Homo sapiens: one gene and its partner. The protein of the gene in region 2 interacts with the protein of the main gene of each other region in a biochemical or structural test. Each region holds a gene or a part of one and is shown on either strand. Other genes may lie near its edges.

Region 1 (5,839 bases), about 140 Mb from region 2:
GGCACCACTGCACTCCAGCCTGGGCGAAGGAGCGAGACTCCGTCTCAAAAAAAAAAAAAAAAAAAGAGATTCTCCTGCCTCAGTCTCCTGAGTAGCTGGGATTACAGGCGCGTGCCACCATACCCAGCTAATTTTTGTATTTTTAGTAGAGACTGGGTTTCACCATGTTGGCCAGGCTGGTTTTGAACTCTTGACCTCAGGTGATCCATCCACCTCAGCCTCCCAAAGTGCTGGGATTACAGGCATGAGCCCCTGTGCCCGGCCAATAATAATAATTCTTAAGGATGTAAATGGGTCCTTAAACCAGTTTCAGCACTGCTGGGCAATTCATAGGCTGTTACTACTCTCAGAGCCTGCATTCCCAGCTTAAGAATCGAGAGTCTTTTTTTTTTACTTTTCCTTCTAGACCCTTGTAGAACAAGAAGTGAGTCTTATTTGAAGTAGAGAGTGGAGAACTGACTGTTTTCTGGCAACCCTCTCTCCCTCAAGAAGAGACACTGTCACTGGAATAAAGATTTTAATTGTCTCTGCTCATGGTAGAAGCAAGGCATACAGGCCCCCAACCCTTCTGCGCCACCCCTCTTCTCCCCTGTGCACTGTGTCTACTGCTGGGTGGAGGGGGTCGGGGGAGCAGGTATTGTGGGCCAGCCCCAGATGTGGGCTCCCCTGCCCTCTCTTCACCTAGTCTCTTTTCATGTTCCCCTTCAGGTGACTCTTTCTCCTCCCAGTAAGTCACAGGGTAGCAAGGCTGAGGGAGGAGAGCATGGGGAGGGGAGGGGATCAGGAATCCACAGCCCAGCCCGGCCTGAGTCCAGGTGGAGAGCAGGTGCGTGTGCCTGTGTGAGTGTCCCTGTGCATGGCCGTGGGCTTGGCTCAGCCTGTAAGCTCTGAGATCCCCCCATGCCAGTCCCCTCTCAGAGGTCCTATCTGGTGTCTTCACTGGGGTCAGCACACCTGAGCTATTCAAATTACTTCCATCCTTTGGCGATGGGGCTGCTGTGGGTGAGGCTGAGGCCTGGCACCTCTGTTGCTTCTGGCACAGGGTAGGGAGGTGTGGAGGGATAGGAGAGGAGGCAGGTCAGCCTCGGGTGCTACTCCCCCTCTCCCCAAGGAGCCAGTAGGTCCGAACCTTGCCTTTGCCCTGGAGGGAAAAAAGAGGATGGGCTGGGGAGTGGCACATGCCCTTTCCCCAGTCAGATGAGAGCCTTAGGGATGGGAGTGGCATTGGCTGCTTGAGAAGGGTAACTCCCTCTAGGACCCCAAAAGGTGGGGAGGGCAGAGGCTTCTCCCTCTACCTTCATTTCTACATCCCCTCGAAGCTCCAGCTCGAAACCACCAAACTCCTCCAGGACAGCCTTGGTCTCAGAAGACAAGTGGATCTTCAGGGCTGGGTAGGACAGGGGAGAAGGGAAGGTGAGCAATGTGAGAGAGGAGAGCAGGAAAGTAGAGGCAAAAGAGACCAGGGACTGTGGGGGTGGACAGGTGGACAGGTACCCTCTCTCCCTCTTTTGGGCCAGGAAGCCCTCTAGCTCAGAGGGGCCCCACCCCCTGAATGTAGTGCGTGACCACATTAGCCTCTCATTTAGAACTCTGGAGCTGTGTAATCCAATACAGTAGCCACTAATCACATGTGCCTGTTTCAACTTAAATTAATTTAAACTAAATACAGTTAAAAATTCAGGCTGGGTGCTGTGGCTCACACCTGTAATCCCAGCACTTTGGGAGGCTGAGGCAGGAGGATCACTTGAGGCCAGGAGTTCGAGACCATCCTGGCCAATATGGCGAAACCCCGTCTCTACTAAAAATACAAAAATTAGCTGTGTGTGGTGGCACTCACCTGTAATTCCAGCTACTTGGGAGGCTGAGGCAGGAGAATCGCTTGAACCTGGGAGGCGGAGGTTGCAGTGAGCCGAGATTGCACCACTGCACTCCATCCAGGCTGGGCGACAGAGCGAAACTCTGTCTCCAAAAAAAAAAAAAAAAATCAGGGCCTCAGTTGCACCCGTCACATTTCCAGTGATAAGTAGCCATATGTGCCTAGAGGCTACTGTATTGGACAGCACAGAATACAGAACATTTTCATGACTATGGAACATCCTGTTGGACAGCACTCTCTGGAGTGTCACCCGGCTCTACACAGCATGGTGGTTAGGAGCTGGCACTTTGGATCCTGCACTGCCTCAGTATGAACCTCAGCTTGGATACTTGCTTAGGTATGTAAAATAAATTCTCTCTGCTTCATTTTCCTAATCTGTAAAATGCTGATAGTGTCAGTACCCATCTCAAAACCTTGTTGTGAGGATTAAATTTAACATCCATAAAGTATTCAAACGGAATGTGCTACCTAGGAAGCACTATGTAAATTGTTGCTTTCATGATTTCATGCTATACCCTCATTTTGTGGCCGAGGAACTGAGGCCCAGGGTGATCTGCCCAAGTGGCTGAGGAGGTCAGTGATGGAGTGGGGCCCAATATTGCCACACCCTCTCTTTGACCACTGTCTGAACTCATGTCCCTACTTCTGGGGTTTGCATCAATCACAGTGGCCTTGTTGTGTTTAACAGTTTCTTTCTTTTCTTTTCTTTCTTTCTCTCTTTTTTTTTTTTGAGACAGAGTCTCGCTCTGTTGCCCAGGGGTGCAGTCTCGGCTCACTGCAACATCCACCTCCTGGGTTCAAGTGATTTTCATGTCTCAGCCTCCTGAGTAGCTGGGATTACGGGCACGTGCCACCACGCCCAGCTAATTTTTTGTATTTTTAGTAGAGACAGGAGGTTCACCATGTTGGCCAGGCTAGTCTCCAACTCCTGGCCTCAAGTGATCTGCCCACCTCGGCCTCCCAAAGTGCTGGGATTACAAGCACCCCCAGCGCCCAGAATGTTGAACAATTTCTGGGAATGTGCTCCTTGAGGACTGGACCCTCAACAAGGGGCTGTACTCTGACAGCCCCCAAAATAGTGCCCAGGGAATATTTGCCGAACTAGATCCCTCTGGGCTCCCAGGACTGGCTCCCAAGCAGCCTTTCTTTCACCATAAGGTTTAGATGGGGTCCACATGAATTTCTCAGCTAACTCTGGATCTGGGCCATGTTACTATCCCAGGGCCTGGCACTCAGTAGTCACTCAATAAATGTTTACTGCATTGAATTGTGTCGAATACAGCAGAAGGATAGAAGATAAACAGGAGGCAAGAGCAAGGGGCGGGTAGGAGTAAGAATTTATTAGGTGCCTGCTGGGTACCAGGGTTTGTGCTAGGCTTCTTGCAATCCTGAGATAGACATCATTTTACAGATAATCCGCTAAGGCTTGGAAAAGTTAAATGACAATTATGTGGTAGACATTTTTAATGGGTTTCTCACATAATTCCTGTGAGATAGATTTTTTCCCTCTTTTTACAGATGAGGAAAACCATGGCTCAGAGAGGTATAGCAAACTGACACACAGCCAGCTGTGGAGCTGAGATTCACAGCCTCACTTATGCTGGCTCTGAAGCCATCTTTACCACATCAAAGGTGGAGCAGAGGGTCTTTTTTTTTTTTTTTTTTTTTTTTTTTGAGACAGAGTTTAACTCTTATTGCCCAAGCTGGGGTGCGTGGTGTAATCTTGGCTCATCGCAACCTCTGCCTCCCGGGTTCAAGCAATTCTTCTGCCTCAGCCTCCCAAGTAGCTGGGATTACAGGAGCCTGCCATCACACCTGGCTAGTTTTTTGTATTTTTAGTAGAGACGGGATTTCATCATGTTGGTCAGGCTGGTCTCGAACCCCCGACCTCAGGTGATCCGCCTGCCTCAGCTTCCCAAAGTGCTGGGATTACAGGTGTGAGTCACCACGCCCGGCCCACAGAGGGTCTTAAAATCAGATTCCTGCTGGGAACTCTCCAGCACTGGCCCGGAAATACTTTTACATCGTTTGACAAGAGGGGCAGCAGGAACCTGAGTCTCTGGTTACAGTCAAGTTGATGAGCCCAGGTTGAACTCTTAATATTATGAGAAGGGGAACTTGGGAGGCGAAAGGGCTAGGAGCTGAAACGGGCTGTGCAGGCACAGGCTGCCCCAGGATGGCATTTCCCTCAGCCACCCTGCCCTCCCCATTCCCTCTAGGAGGGGGCACTGTACCTTCCCCATTAGACTCCATTCTTGAGGCTGTGTTGACTGTATCCCCAAAGAGACAGTAACGGGGCATCTTCAGTCCCACCACTCCAGCACACACAGGTCCTGGGAGGAGCAAGGGAAGGAGCAGAGCCCATCAGCGAGTGAGGGAGGGAGGGGTGTTAAGGGAGGTAGGTGGACAATCCAAGACAGGCAGGAGGCAGGATCTGAGGTCCCAGCTCTGTGTGTGTGTGTGTGTGTGTGTGTGAGAGAGAGAGAGAGAGAGAGAGAGAGAGAGAGACAGAGAGAGAGAGAGAGAGAGAGAGAGAGAGAGAGAGAGATGAAAGGGCGAGGGGCTGGGCCAGGGGACAAGTTTCCCTTGCGAAGCCTTGGCCTCTGGATGCCCGCCTGCACCTTCAGTGGCCTTACCTGTGTGGATGCCAATGCGCAAGCGCAGCTGCTCCTGGGGCCGGTGGCGGATTCGGAAGGAGCGCACAGCATCCAGCAGTGCCAGGGCCATGCGGGCTACCTCGCAGGCGTGTAGCCGCCCGTTCCGCACAGGGAGCCCTGACACCACCATGTAGGCATCGCCAATTGTCTCCACCTGTGGGAGTGGCGAGGGGGTGCAGGACTTGACGGCTGCAACTGTGCGGCCGGCCACACCGTCACACCGGGTGCAGCGTCTGTCATTCTGTACCCTCATCTGTCTTTGCTCATCCCCCATCCCACATGGGTTCTCTGCCTGTTCCCGGGTCTCCCTGTGTCACTGTCTCTGCCCGTGTCCCCGATCTCCTCTCTTAAGACTCCACATCATTCTGCCTACCCCTCATCTTTTTCTGACCTTGTCCATGTCTGTCTGTCCCTTCCCATCCCCACTCCCACCCTCACCTTGTACACATCAAAGTTGTCTATGACAGCATCAAAGCAAGTGTACAGGTCATTGAGCAGGGTCACCACCTGGAAGGGAAGAGAAGCTAAGAGAGACAGGAAGTAGGGGACCCCACCTGGGGTCAGGTGGGTAAAGCAGAACCAGAAGGCAGGTCTGGTGGGATCCAGATGCTGAGCTTGCCTGGCACCTGTGGCTGAACCCTGGCCTACCTGCATGGGTGTGCTCTCCGCCGACAGCGCTGTGAAACCCACAATGTCACTGAAGTAGATGGTAACACTGTCAAAGGCTTCGGCCTGCACCGTCTCCCCACGCTTCAGCTGCTCAGCCACTGAGCTAAGGGGTCAGGGCAGGTGCAGGATCAGAGTTGGGGGTCGGGACAGGGGCTTTGTGTTGGGGGGGGTCCCCAGACTCAGGCACTCACTGAGGCAGGATCTGGTAGAGCAGGGCCTCAGCCTTGCGCTTCTCCTCCAGGTATGCCTGGGTCCGCTCCTCCACCAGTTCCTCCAGATTGTTCGCGTACTGCTCCATGCGGGACAGCAGGTTGTCCAGGATGTTGCTGCTGTTCTCCCTGGGGGCAGAGGGTGGCGGTGGGGGTGGTAAGAGAGGAGCAGCACAGCCTACCGTGAGCGCCCGCCCCTAGGCACTTCCCCCTCCAGACTGCAGTGAGGTCTCTAGAGACGCTCAGGGTTGAGGGCATAGCAGGATACCGGGGAGCAGGGGAAAACAGAAGGAAGAAAGTTCAATTCTTTTCTGAGACCCCAAGGTCAAGTATGAAGCTTCAGACATATGGACATTTTGTTCATCTTTGTTGAACCCAGTGAGTTAGAAGGAGGTAAAGGAGGTGGAGAATGACAAGGGTCAATTGCG
Region 2 (6,380 bases):
TGGGTTGGAGTTTTGAAGGCTCCTTTGCAGGATGACCCCAGGAATTGGAGTTTCAAAGCTGATATTTGGGGCAGGATGGAGGGCTCACCCCGGTATGGGAATGTAGATGAGCCACACCCACACACACTGCCCCCAGTCGTTGACATTTTAGCTGAGACCTGAAAGCAATAATCCCCAGGGAGAGTGCTTTAATGGTGGAATTCCAGGCAGAGCAAGGACGAGTGGAGAAAACGGCTGGATACGTGCCCTCAGGTTGCACACGTATCCTGCCCTGCTTTGAAAAGCAGTTTCTCCCAAGTGCCTCAAGTGCTTGAGATATTCAATAACATTTCAGAGCATTAAAAACTCTGAAAGAAAAGAAAGCCTGCTACCTCTGAGGCCACATCCTCATCCCACCATGAAGATGCCTTGAGATCACAGGGCTTTGTGGTTTTAGTTGGGTTGGTTTCTTTGAAATGAGGGATTATTTTTAATGCGCCAAGACAAATCAGTTTCAAAAGATAAAGCTTATAATGTTGACTTTATTTCACCGTGGAAATTTTGTGCTCAAAGGTAAGAAACCATCTTATATAAAACAATCAAATAAATACATAAATACATTAAAAAAATGAGTCACTTCAAAGGCGGCCACAGGGTTGAGGAAAAAGCCCCTTGTGGAATCAGAAGCAGGTGTCTGCAGCCAGGACTTCCTCTTAATGCCGCCTCAGCACTGTCAGGGAAAGAGAGAGGGTGATGATGGTTAGGGTGGGAGATGGAGGCAGGGGCTGAGCTTACCTCATCGTGTGCCACCCACCACCCTGTTAGTCATCAGACGTTTGAGGCTTAATGCAACTCTCTGAGCCTCAGTTTCCTCATCTGTAAATTGGGGATTATCATTGCTCTGGTGATCCTGCTCTCTGCCTTTGAGACTATAGACAGTTTAGAGGAAACCAGGAGGAAATGTTTGGTTCTCTTTCTGCACCACTGGGGGGCTGCCAAATGATAAACAGACCCCCAAAGGAGATTCTGCCCCTTTGATAAGAAGTAGGAGGTGGGGAGAAGGTATTGTGGGCATGGTAATGAAATAAGCCCACATTTACTAATTCCACAAAGGCACCCCTTGGCCCTGAAGGCTGTTAACAAGAGGAAGCGATGTCCAGGTGACCTTTTCTCAAAGAGTGTGGTTCCCAGAGACAACAAACCCCAAAGTGACTCTAACAGTGTCACACACTGGAATGGGGGAAGGCGGCCGGGGTGGCAGGGGGTGCTTACCTTTGCAGCCCAGGCCACTGGAGGAGCTGATCCGGTCCATCTTCCTCCCAAAGCAGCCAGACCCTTGCACCATCTTGGGGCTTCGTGGTGCCCGCAGGGTGTAGAGGACCATTTTGCGGTGCCCACGGATGCCCTCGGTGGCTACCTCCCGGGACTTCCAGACACCTGTGGGACGGGGGCTCTCCTGGAGGGGCTCCAGGGATGTCTGCTCCACCTGCAGCTCCGACAGTTTGCCCTGCAAATGGTTGCGCTGCTCCTGCAATGAATGGGGGCGTCCAAGCCTCAGGGACCCACCCCTGGGCTCACCAGCCCTTCATGGCACCCAAGTGAACCGACTGCCTTGGGTACAGGGTCAGGGCACCCAGTCTCTCCATTTTCTGATTCCTTTATCACTAATTCCAAAGGAAAGATGAGGGCCTCTTGGGACAGCAGGTGAGGACCCTTTCATTGCTGCTGTCCAATCCCCCTGAGCTGCCCTCCGCTCTCACCTGTAACCCGGACGTTTCCAAGTCCGAGGCTGAACCGGGGCTGCCCAGCGGGTGGGAACGACCTCCCAGGAAAGCCAGATGCAAGAAGAGCAGGAGCAGGAGCGCCCGGGAAGGTGCTGTCTGGGGATCCATGTCTCTGGAGGGACTGCGGAGGCTGCTGCTGCTGCTTCTGCTGCTGCTGCTGCTGCTGCGATGCGTCCGGGTTTGCTTCCCACCTGCCCTCAGCCTGCGGGGTGCTCCTCCTGGCTCCTCGGGACACCGTGGCCTTTTATCCTGGAGCTGAGTGTCGGGCCTGCCCTGCCATGCAGGGTTATCTCTGATTTATCAGCCACATTCCGGGCCTCTGAGATCAGGGCCCGGGAATGAGCCCCTCCGCGCCTGCGACGTGGGAGGTGGAGACCGGGCAGAGCCGACCTTGTATAGAAATGGGCCGGGTCGGGCCGGGGGGCAGGAACGCGCTGGAGACACAGACAAGTCCCCGTCTCCCGCTTCTTCCTTTCCTGCAAATGTCCAGGTGTCCTAGGTTGGCGCTTTCTTCCTGCCTCCCCACCCCACCGTTGCTGGAAAAGGCAGGGAGGACCCCGGCTTTCCGAGGACCGACGTGAGCGCGGGGAGCACGGGGTGACTCACAGCGAAAACAGCCCCGGCCAAGACCCCGCCACCCGCGGCGCCTCTCCCCTCCCCGCGCGAGTTCCCTGGCCCGCACGTAGCGCAGCACCTGCTCGCCGCTGTGCACCCTGCCTGCCTGCGGGTCCTCGGGGGCGCCCTGGCCGCTGTCCGTGGTGCTGATCACCCCGAGGGAACTTGGAGCAAACTCTCAAGAGCTGCTCTCTTCAACGGGATTTTCAGGCCAGAAAGACCTGCGTGGAGCAAGGACAAGAGACCTCCGAGACCTTTCCCTATGCTCTCACAATCCGCCATCTTATAGTCCTTACAGCAACGGGATGCTGATTCCCCAGTGGCAATTCATTAAAAGCCTGGGTATGACCAGGAACTTCTGGAATGCTGACCCTTCTTTCACTCCTTAAAGGGAAGAGCAGATTTCGCTGGAATTTTGAGAGATAGGGTCCAGTGATGACGAAGTCACCCAAGAATGCCTTATATGTGTGTCCTCCACGTGTCAACACCTCCTCTCCCCCACCAAGCCAACACAGGATGGAAAACAAAAGGATAGGCTGGGCATGGTGGTTCACGCCTGTAATCCCAGCACTTTGAGAGGCCGAGGCGGTCGGATCACGAGGTCAGGAGATCGAGACCACGGTGAAACCCCGTCTCTACTAAAATTACCAAAAATTAGCTGGGCATGGTGGCAGGCGCCTGTAGTCCCAGCTACTCGGGAGGCTGAGGAAGGAGAATCACTTGAACCCAGGAGGTGGAGGTTGCAGTGAGCTGAGATCACGCCACTGCACTCCAGCCTGGTTGACAGAGAGCGAAAAAAGAAAGAAAGAAAGAAGGAAAGAAAGAAAGAAAGAAAGAAAGAAAACAAAAGGATGGCTGGAATGATGGTTATCTATTTGCTGGGATACCAGAGATATGGGGATTTCCCCTCTCCCAGTGCCTCCTTCATCTGACCACCCATGATCTAATTATCATTAGCAGGTGGCCTGGTGATTAGAAGTGAGACTTTGGAGAGAAATGCCCCTGAGAAGAGTCATAGCAGCTTAAATACCCCCCTAAAGCATATATGACTGATGTCACTCCCCTTCCAGAGAATTGGTGTCAACAAGCAGCAGGCTGGAGGAGTGGAGCTGTCTATGAGGGGAGAAGAGTTACAGCAGAGAAGGGCAGCAATAAGAAACTGGGACCTCTAAGCAGATCTTGCCTAAAAAATAGCATCTGCCCCTGAGGTGAGAAAAGCACGGTTATTATTCCTCACTTCAGAGGAGGAAATGGTGTTCATGAATTAATCTACTTTCCAAAAGTCACACAATTGACACATGATAAATCCTGGATTCTAACCAGTCTGATTAGTCTAGCCAGCAGTCTGATTCCAGACCTGAAGCTCATAATCACTGCCAGGGTGATCACAAGGTGTTTCTACAAAAAGCAAGCTTAGGTGAATCCCGTGTCATCTATGAAGGCTCTGGGAGCTGTGCTGTGGGGGATGTGCAATTCTAGTGGTGACTGTGTGTGCAGGAGAAAGAATGGGAAGTGGCTCAGATGAGCATTTTGCAGATGAAATATAAATGGAGGTGGGTGGGTAAGGGCTGTGTAAAGACACCAGTGCTGGAAATGTTCTGGGGGGCTGGGGTAGTTTTGTGTGTGTGTGTGTGTGTGTGTGTGTGTGTGTGCGTGCACATGAGCATGCCACAGTAAGAGTATCAAAAGGCTAAGAGGAAGCTAAAGAGGTAAGAAAATTCAGCCAAGTGCAGAGGGGAGTCAGTGGGCGAGAGGCTGCTGAGGGTGCAGAAAGCCCCTCATGCTGAGTACCATGAGATAAAGGGTTCAGAGCAAGGCAGGATTCATCAACCAGCACCATCAAAAACTGACTCTGCATCTCGCCAGAGCCTCACTTTGCTCTTCGGCAAAATGGACAGTCCTTGCAAGGACTAAAAGGAAAAAAATAATATCTGCAAAAGCCCGTGGCACTGTATAAAGGGCCAAATAATTAGTAGTACATGAGAGTTGGTCTTTACACTGAAGGAGATTGTGATCTCACTGGGGAGACAAAGTGACCCCAAGTGAGACAATTAAGTGTCTAAGTGTCATACACTCTGACAGAGTTTCTATCTGTCCCCAGTGGAGGGGACTGTGGAAGAAGACTTGAGGAAGACACAGAACTAGACACATCCTCCAAGGCCTGCTGTCCAGGGAGGAGGATATGTTGTCAACTAACTCTCACACCAGATCAGCCCCATCAACATTTATCGAGGGCCTGTCATATGCTATGTGCTTTCCAAGTCTATTTAATGAAGCTAATCATAACACCTCTGTTGGAGCATTAATGTACAAGGATTAAATTTGATGATGTCTGTGGTAAGCTGAATAATAGTCCCCAAAAGATGTCCATATTCTAATCCCCAGAATCTGCGAATATACTACTTTACATGGTAAAAAGGACTTTGCAGGTGTGGTTAAGTTAAGGACCTCAAGGTGGAGAGATTCTCCTGGATTATTCAGGAAGGCTCAATGTCATCACAAGGGTCCTTATAAGAGGGAAGCCAGAGGATCAAGGTCAGAGGGACAAAATGTAAGGATGGGAACAGGTCAGAGAGGAGAGAAGAGACTACACTGCTGGCTTTGAAGATAGAGGAAGGGGCCATGAGCCAAGGAATGTAATCAGCCTCTAGAAGTTGGAAAGGGCAAAGAAATGGATTTTTCCCTAGAGCTTCCAGAAGGAATATGGGCCTGCCAATACCTTAGTTTTAGCCCAGTGAAACAGATTTCAGACTTCTGATGTCTGGAACTGTAAGAAAATAAAATCATGTTCTTTTAAGCCAACAAGCTTGTGAGACTTTGTTTCAGCAGCAATGGGAAATTAATAGAGTATATGTCAAATGCCAAGCATAGTGTCTCTCCCATAGTAAGCCCTCAGCAAATGTTGTTATGGTAGAAGTATTGGTTCCCCACCACCATCCAACTCTAAGTGCTTAATCTGGCCACACAGAAAGAAATAAGACCCTTAAGTCATTCAACAAACTTTCACCGAGACCCTGGGGTCACAGTAGCCCAGACCCAAGACTGAAATCACAGTCTGGGCTCAATTTCACATCAACTTCTTGCTACCTTTGTGTGTTGGGCAAGTTGCTTCCTCTCTCTCCTTGTTTTCTCATGGCTACCTCATAGGGTTGTTGTGAGCATAAAATGAGACTGTGCAGGTTAAAATCTAATATTTCTGCTGGAAGGTGGGGATACATAACGGACAAGAAAGTCCCTGCCATTGAGAAGCTTACAGTGCAGGGGGAAAGGTGGGCACAATCACAGGCTCCCCAGGCTGCCACAGTGAGTGACAGATACAGTGGCAGTGAGTCCTGGATGCTCTGTGAGCACAGCAGGAGTGCGCAGTCGAGAAGGGAGTTTGTTGGAGAAGGTGGGGCTGGGCTAAGGCTTTGAAGGATAAGAATGAGTTAGCCACAAGAAGGAAGATGGAAGATGGGGAGGGCACTCTGGGCAGAGCAGATGCACAAGCAGAGGCTAGAAGGGCTGGTTAATGGATCAGCTACCACCCCTATGCTCTCTGCAGAAGGAAGAAGCTGTGCAGAATACAAGGTTTGACTAGTCAGAGAGTAGGACTCCAGCTGCAAGATTTTTCTGTAGCTTCCCTCTGGCCTCAATCTCCAGTCTAGTCCTGGGCAGCCAAAGTGGATGGTATGAGAGCACTGGGCACCTGGGGGAAGCAAAGGAGGAAACAGAGGAGCACTGACCCAGGAGGCAGGAGGCAGGCTCGTCTCTGCCCGTGGCTGACTCACGGTGTGGCTCTGTTCCAGGGATTCTTTTTTTTTTTTTTTAATTTTTTTGAGATGCAGTCTTCCTCTTTCACCCAGGCTGGAATGCAGTGGTGCGATCTCAGCTCACTGCAACCTCCGCCTCCTGGGTTCAAGTGATTCTCCTGTCTCAGCCTCCTGAGTAGCTGGGACTAGAGGCACGTGCCACCACACCCAACTAATTTTTTATTTTTAGTAGAGATGGGGTTTCACCATG

The links.
Region 1: the proteins of NPPB (region 2) and NPR1 form a complex in vitro, tested with the Homo sapiens proteins (2 studies listed by BioGRID).

Annotation. Positions count from the first base shown.
Region 1 is NC_000001.11:153,688,654-153,694,492, reverse strand, and holds the end of NPR1 (atrial natriuretic peptide receptor 1 precursor), read right to left. Parts: intron 5,541-5,839; coding exon 5,394-5,540; intron 5,306-5,393; coding exon 5,182-5,305; intron 5,041-5,181; coding exon 4,972-5,040; intron 4,789-4,971; exon of another isoform or gene 4,700-4,788; intron 4,688-4,699; coding exon 4,513-4,687; intron 4,210-4,512; coding exon 4,111-4,209; intron 1,388-4,110; coding exon 1,296-1,387; intron 1,142-1,295; coding exon 1,079-1,141; 3' UTR 501-1,078; downstream 1-500. UniProt on the Homo sapiens protein: Receptor for the atrial natriuretic peptide NPPA/ANP and the brain natriuretic peptide NPPB/BNP which are potent vasoactive hormones playing a key role in cardiovascular homeostasis.
Region 2 is NC_000001.11:11,856,963-11,863,342, forward strand, and holds NPPB (natriuretic peptides B preproprotein), read right to left. Parts: upstream 1,984-6,380; 5' UTR 1,872-1,983; coding exon 1,740-1,871; intron 1,508-1,739; coding exon 1,252-1,507; intron 710-1,251; coding exon 693-709; 3' UTR 502-692; downstream 1-501.